Linked DNA regions of Homo sapiens: region 2 is linked to region 1. A link means that fine-mapping ties the variant in region 1 to the expression of a gene that starts in the linked region. Tissue or cell type: prefrontal cortex. Region 1 holds a variant in brackets; the other region holds the start of a gene. All regions are shown on one strand. Distances are from middle to middle.

Evidence for each region. PIP is the estimated chance that this variant, and not a neighbour inherited with it, causes the effect.
Region 2: it holds the start of LRRC75B, and the variant in region 1 is the best candidate, but not a certain one, in a credible set for the expression of LRRC75B in prefrontal cortex (ROSMAP, PIP 0.82).

What each region holds. Positions count from the first base shown.
Region 1 is chr22:24,650,796-24,653,478 of GRCh38, forward strand. It overlaps the pseudogene BCRP3 and the pseudogene POM121L10P. Among named protein-coding and RNA genes, the nearest start is that of GGT1, 49 kb to the left of the region's middle. RefSeq lists an enhancer at 61-828. The variant G/T (reference allele first, on the strand shown) is at 1,250.
Region 2 is chr22:24,591,945-24,594,627 of GRCh38, forward strand. It overlaps LRRC75B (leucine rich repeat containing 75B), which reads right to left and starts at 1,129. Exons shown (of 4, transcript NM_207644.3): 1 at 919-1,129. The coding sequence starts at 1,095. It also overlaps a transcript of GGT1 not described here. RefSeq lists enhancers at 1-549, 550-1,542, 2,592-2,683 and a silencer at 1,027-1,256.

The DNA.
Region 1 (2,683 bases):
CAAGAGACAGAGCATCCTGTTCTCCACCGATGTCTAAAGGTCCCAGTCCATCTCCTGGAGGCGGACAGATGGCCTGGAAACCTCTGGCTAATCGGGCCATCTGTAGAGTGGGAATCAAGATTTTCTGAGGCATCCTTGGGCCACCCCCAGGTGTCAGGCCATCTGCCAAGAGACAGCGGCCCAAAGCAGAAGGACAGGTGGCCTGGGCAGATCCCGCCCAGGTCTGAAAGCCCCAGGCTGGCCTCAGACTGTGGGTTTTTTATGTGGCCACCCGAGGGCGCCCCAAGCCAGTTCATCTCGGAGTCCAGGCCTGGCCCTGGGAGACAGGGTGAAAGCAGTGGTTTTTATGAACTTAACTTATAGAGTCCAAAAGATTTCTACTGAATCACTTGTCAAGAAGCGCCCTCTCTGGGGAGAAGGGAACGTGACTGGATTCCCTCACTGTTGTATCTTGAATAAACGCTGCTGCTTCATCCTGTGGGGGCCGTGGCCCTGTCCCTGTGTGGGTGGGGCCTCTTCCATTTCCCTGACTTAGAAACCACACTCCACTTCTAACAGGGTTTGAGAGGCTTGGTCAGCACTGGGTAGCGTTTTGACTCCATTCTTGGCTTTCTTCTTTTTCTTTCCAGAAGGATTTTTGTGCAGAAATGGGTCTTTTGTTGCCGTGTTAGTCCTCCTTGGAAGGCAGCTCAGAAGGCCTGTGAAATGTCGGGGGACAGGACCCCCAGGGAGGGAATCCCAGGCTACGCACCTTAGGGTTCGTTCTCCAGGGAGAGCGACCTCGTCCCCCGATCCTGACCGCCCTTCCGGCCCACGCTCTCCTGTTTGGCTTCCACAGGCCTGGACTTCTCTGGCTTCTCTGCCCACACACTCCCTGCCCCCAGTGTCCCTGCCCCTGCCCCAGCACAGGTGACTTCATTTCTGTCCTCTCAGCTCAGTGGACTCGCTCATCTTTTGTATAAGTCTCCACTTGGTGGCAGCAGCTTGCTGATGACTTGTTTTAAAACTTTCATCCTAAATAACCTTTTGATACTTGAATATTTTTAAGTTTTATACATAGTTTCTAATTTTTTTCCGAACAGATCCAGATACCTAATAAGATGCTGGAATGTAATCCCTGGACAATCCGTGTCCTGGCAGCATTTGGTCTTCCTCTAAGCGCCTGGCTCCGCTGTTCTCAGGAGTGGGTTCTGAAGTCTCTGGAGAACAGGATACGTGGAGGGTTAGGAAGGGGCCAGGCCTAGAGACG[G/T]GAGACTCCCTCCCGGAGCAGGTGGAGGCACAGGACCATTCGCTACCCCATCTGCCGGCACCTGCGGGGGAGCCCAGGCATTCTTTGTAAGCCCTCCTGACCACCTGGCTCAAAGAAAACAGAAGCATGGAGGCCGCCAAGTATTTTCAAGAAATAATCCCATGAACATGGCATCACTTTTTTAGAAAGAGGGGCTTGGGGCAGGCAGAGGAGAGAAGGGAGATCAAACTGAGAGCCAAGTTTCCAGACGGTCCTGCAGGAGGAGAGGATGCAGCTGCCCAGAGGGAAGCAGGATCACATTTAAGGAAGTGTGTGGGGTCCCTGGATGACACCAGCACCCAGTGCGGCTCTGTCTGGCAACCGCTCCCAAGGTGGCAGGAGTGGGTGTCCCCTGTGTGTCAGTGGGCAGCTCCTGCTGAACCCACAGCTCACTGGGGAGCCTGACAGTGGGGCCATGTGCCTGACACTCCTCTCTGCTTGTGGACCTGGCAAGGCAGGGAGCAGAAAACAGAGCTACTTGAAGGCTTTCTGTCTGCGTCTGTGTGCAGTGTGGATTTAGTTGTGCTTTTTACTTGCTGGGAGAGCACAGCCACCATTTACAAGCAGTGTCACCCTCGTGGGTGGCGAGGACAGAACAGGAGCCTCTGCTCTCTGTACCTATCTGGGCCCGGTGGGCTCCCTTGTCCTGGCTTCCATCTCTGTCTCAGCGACCATTCAGCCCTGCACAGGAACACATGTTGCTTAGAAAAGCCAAATCCAGCCCTTGTCTCTGCCTCCTCTGGTCTCATGATGTGCATCTGTTACCTTGAAACTGGAAACCAGTCTATCAATGTCTGTGCCAATTTTTTATTCCCTCCCCAACCTCCTTCCCCATACGACTTTTTATTTATGTAGGATGTGTGCTGTCTAATGATGGGATGACCACACTTTTCCATGTTCTAAAAGTGCTCCTCTCCCACAGGGTCCCAGGGCTGGTGGTTGCTTTGGGTCTACAGCTACGTCTTACCCGCCTCCTGCCTCAACAGCCTGTGTGGTGGCAAAGCCGGTGTGGGGCTGGGGAACGCAGCGTTCTCCAGGAGGGGACCCGGCTCTCCTTCTGCAGTGCAGGCGAAGGCCTAGATGCCAGTGTGACCTCCCACAAGGCGTGGCTTCCAGACTCCCCGGCCGGAAGTGATGCTTTTTTGCCGCGGGCCCTGGGTTTGAAGCAGCCTGGCTTTCTCTTGGTAAGTGGCTGGTGTCTTAGCAGCTGCAATCTGAGCTCAGCCACCTACACACCACCGTGGCCGACACTTTCATTAAAAAGTTTCCTGAGACGACTTGCGTGCATGTTGACTTCATGATCAGCGCCGCTGGGAAGAACCCCAGAGCCGGTGGGGTGGGGCTGGAAGCAGCAGGTGCAGTGATAGGGCTGGGTGCCCAGGAGGCCTCAGTGCT
Region 2 (2,683 bases), 59 kb before region 1:
GAAGAAGGGCTCTGGCCCTGGCTTGCCCCACATTTTCTCTGTGGGCCCTGGGGTGACCACTTCGCTCCATGCCTCAGTTTCCCCATTTCTAATCTACCTTCTGCAGGCCGAACACCTGCATGGCTGACTTCCTGCTCACAGGATGGGGCAGGTAGTGGTGGTAGCTGCTGTAGGGGGTGGGGACGGGGTGGTGAGGGAAGTGGCATGCCCAGGTGATTGGGGGGACCAGCATCCTGGGACAACCCAGGGGTTGGGATCTGGGTTTAGTGTACCTGGTGTGTGTAGGAGCAGAGCCACCACCGGACCGAGTGTTGTGATGCACAGATGCTGGGGATGTGTACTCTAAGGGCATGAGCCGCCTGTTGGAGAACTGGTGATGCATGGATGGCTCTCTGTGGGCTGCCATGGTGTCTTGGGGTGAGGCTGCATCCCTAGACCAGCCCTGGGTCCTCTCTCCAGGGTCCACTGTCTCCCGGATCCTGGAGGAGGGGGAAGTTACCCTCTTCCATTGTCTCTCAATACAAGATGATTTGACCTCACTTGCCACTCCTCCCGGGCCCCTCCCATCTTGCCAGGGCCTGAATTTGGGCTCTTAGGTCCAGGCTACCGGGCCACCCTCAACACACACAACCCCTCTCAAACCCCAAAGACCCGGACACACTCAGCAGCCCCCTCCTCCACACGGTCCGCCGACCTCACCCAGCCCTCACTCCAGGCGGTCGCCCTCTCGCCCACGCAAGACCCCGCGTGCTGCAGCCTGTCGCGCCCTCGGAACCCGCCTGCGCGCGCCAGAGACCAGCTCCGCCTCGCCTCCCGGCGGATACAGGCCCACAACCCATAGCCCCGCGCCTCCCAGACCCCCAGACCCCCAGACCCTCCCTGGCCGCCAGCCCAGGGGCGGACGGCTCCTTCTCTCGCCTGGCGCAGGAGGCGCAGCAGCTGCCGGGCGCGCTCCGGCCGCCGCTCGCGGAGCGTGGACTGGATCTCGCGGAGCCACCGCACCCGGCGCTCGTAGGGCGCGGGCCCGCAGCCGGCCGCCGCCCCGGCCTCAGAGCCAGCCTCGGGCCCGGCCCGCCGGCCCAGCCGCGCCCCCATGGCCGCCGCGCGATGGTCGCCGAACCCACAGGAGGCCGGGCTGTCTGCGCCCCGCTCCCGGGGCCGCCCCTAGTCGCCCCGCCTCCAATCACCGCGGCCCTGCCCCGTCCGGGTCCGAAGGCTGAGCGCCCGCCCCACCCCGCGCCGGAGCGAGGCCAGTGGGTTCCTCGGTTTGGCCTGATCACACTGGAGGAGGCCCTGCTTGCGTCAGTCTTGGCGCTAGAACCCGAGGGCCTGGAGCCGCCAGGGGAGACGCGGAGCTCGGCCGAGACGAGGTGGCTTTTGGCACCTCTTTACCCTCTGGCCCCAGTGCTGACTGGGGAATAGTCGCTTTGACCGTGCAAAGAGCATTCTAGGCGGGGTGGGGGGGTTCTGCTGTGTGTGCCAGTGTTAGGTATTGCCCCCATTGCTTTTAGAAATATGCCCTGCATGGTGAATCTCCGTCTCTACTAAAATACAAAAATTAGGCCGGGCATGGTGGCTCACGCCTGTAATCCCAGCACTTTGGGGGGCCGAGGCAGGCGGAATCTAAGGTCAGGAGTTCAAGACTAGCCTGGCTAACATGGTGAAACCACATTTTTATTGAAAATACAAAAAATTAGCCGGGCGTGGTGGCGGGCGCCTGTAATCCCAGCTATTCGGGAGGTTGAGGTAGGAGAATCAATTGAACCTGGGAGGCGGAGGTTACAGTGAGCCGAGATGGCGCCACCGCACTCTACCCTGGGTGACAGAGCAAAACTCTGTCTCAAAAAAAAAAAAAAGAAAAGAAAAGAAATCTCTGCAGCTGGCAGTTGTGGTGTAGGACCTGCTCACGCTACATGGACACTCCTGCACTGGCAAATATTTACTGCCTCCTGCTTCTTGGTTTGGGGCAGGCCCCCACCTCTGACCCCAGCCTGGGAAATAAACCGGACGAAGAGTCAGGTTAACCGTTAAGCCCAGCTCTGGGCAAGCTGGCAGCAGGCGGGCTGTATCTGCCGCTGGCTTCAGTCTGCCTCCCTGACAAGGGGTGGGGGTGGCGGCAGGCAGAGTGAGATGGGGGCCCTGGCTCCTCTGAGGACCAGGGTGAGGTACGGACCCACCCAGCTCAAGGTGTATCCCACTTCCCAGGGCTCCCTCAGCAGAAGCCTAGGTCTCTGCTGCAGGCCTGCTGGGCCCCTGCAGCCCCAATCCCGGCTCTGGGACGCTCACATCTCCTGCGTGGGGAACGTTTGAGGCACTGATCTGCAGTTCCCACTTCTCTAAGCAAGGAGCACGTGTTTAGCCTGTGAGGACTGGTACCTGTTGTGCAGGAAGGGCTGAGCACTGTCCGAGGGCATATATGAGGGACGACAGCCAAGCACCCGTGTGTATGTGTGTGTGTGTGTGTGTGTGTGTGTGTGTGTGTCTGCTAATTACCCTATGAAGATTCAAGGTTCCTTCCTTTGGGTTAAGCACTGCCTGCCCAGAGATGGCAGTGGGGAGAGGGCAGGGTGCTAGGCTCTGTCATCCTGTGGGGCTGGGCCCCTGAGACAAGGCAGAGGACAGCAGGATGTCTTAGCCCCTTGACCATCCACGGACCCCCAACCCCTGCTGGAGCAGTGCTTGC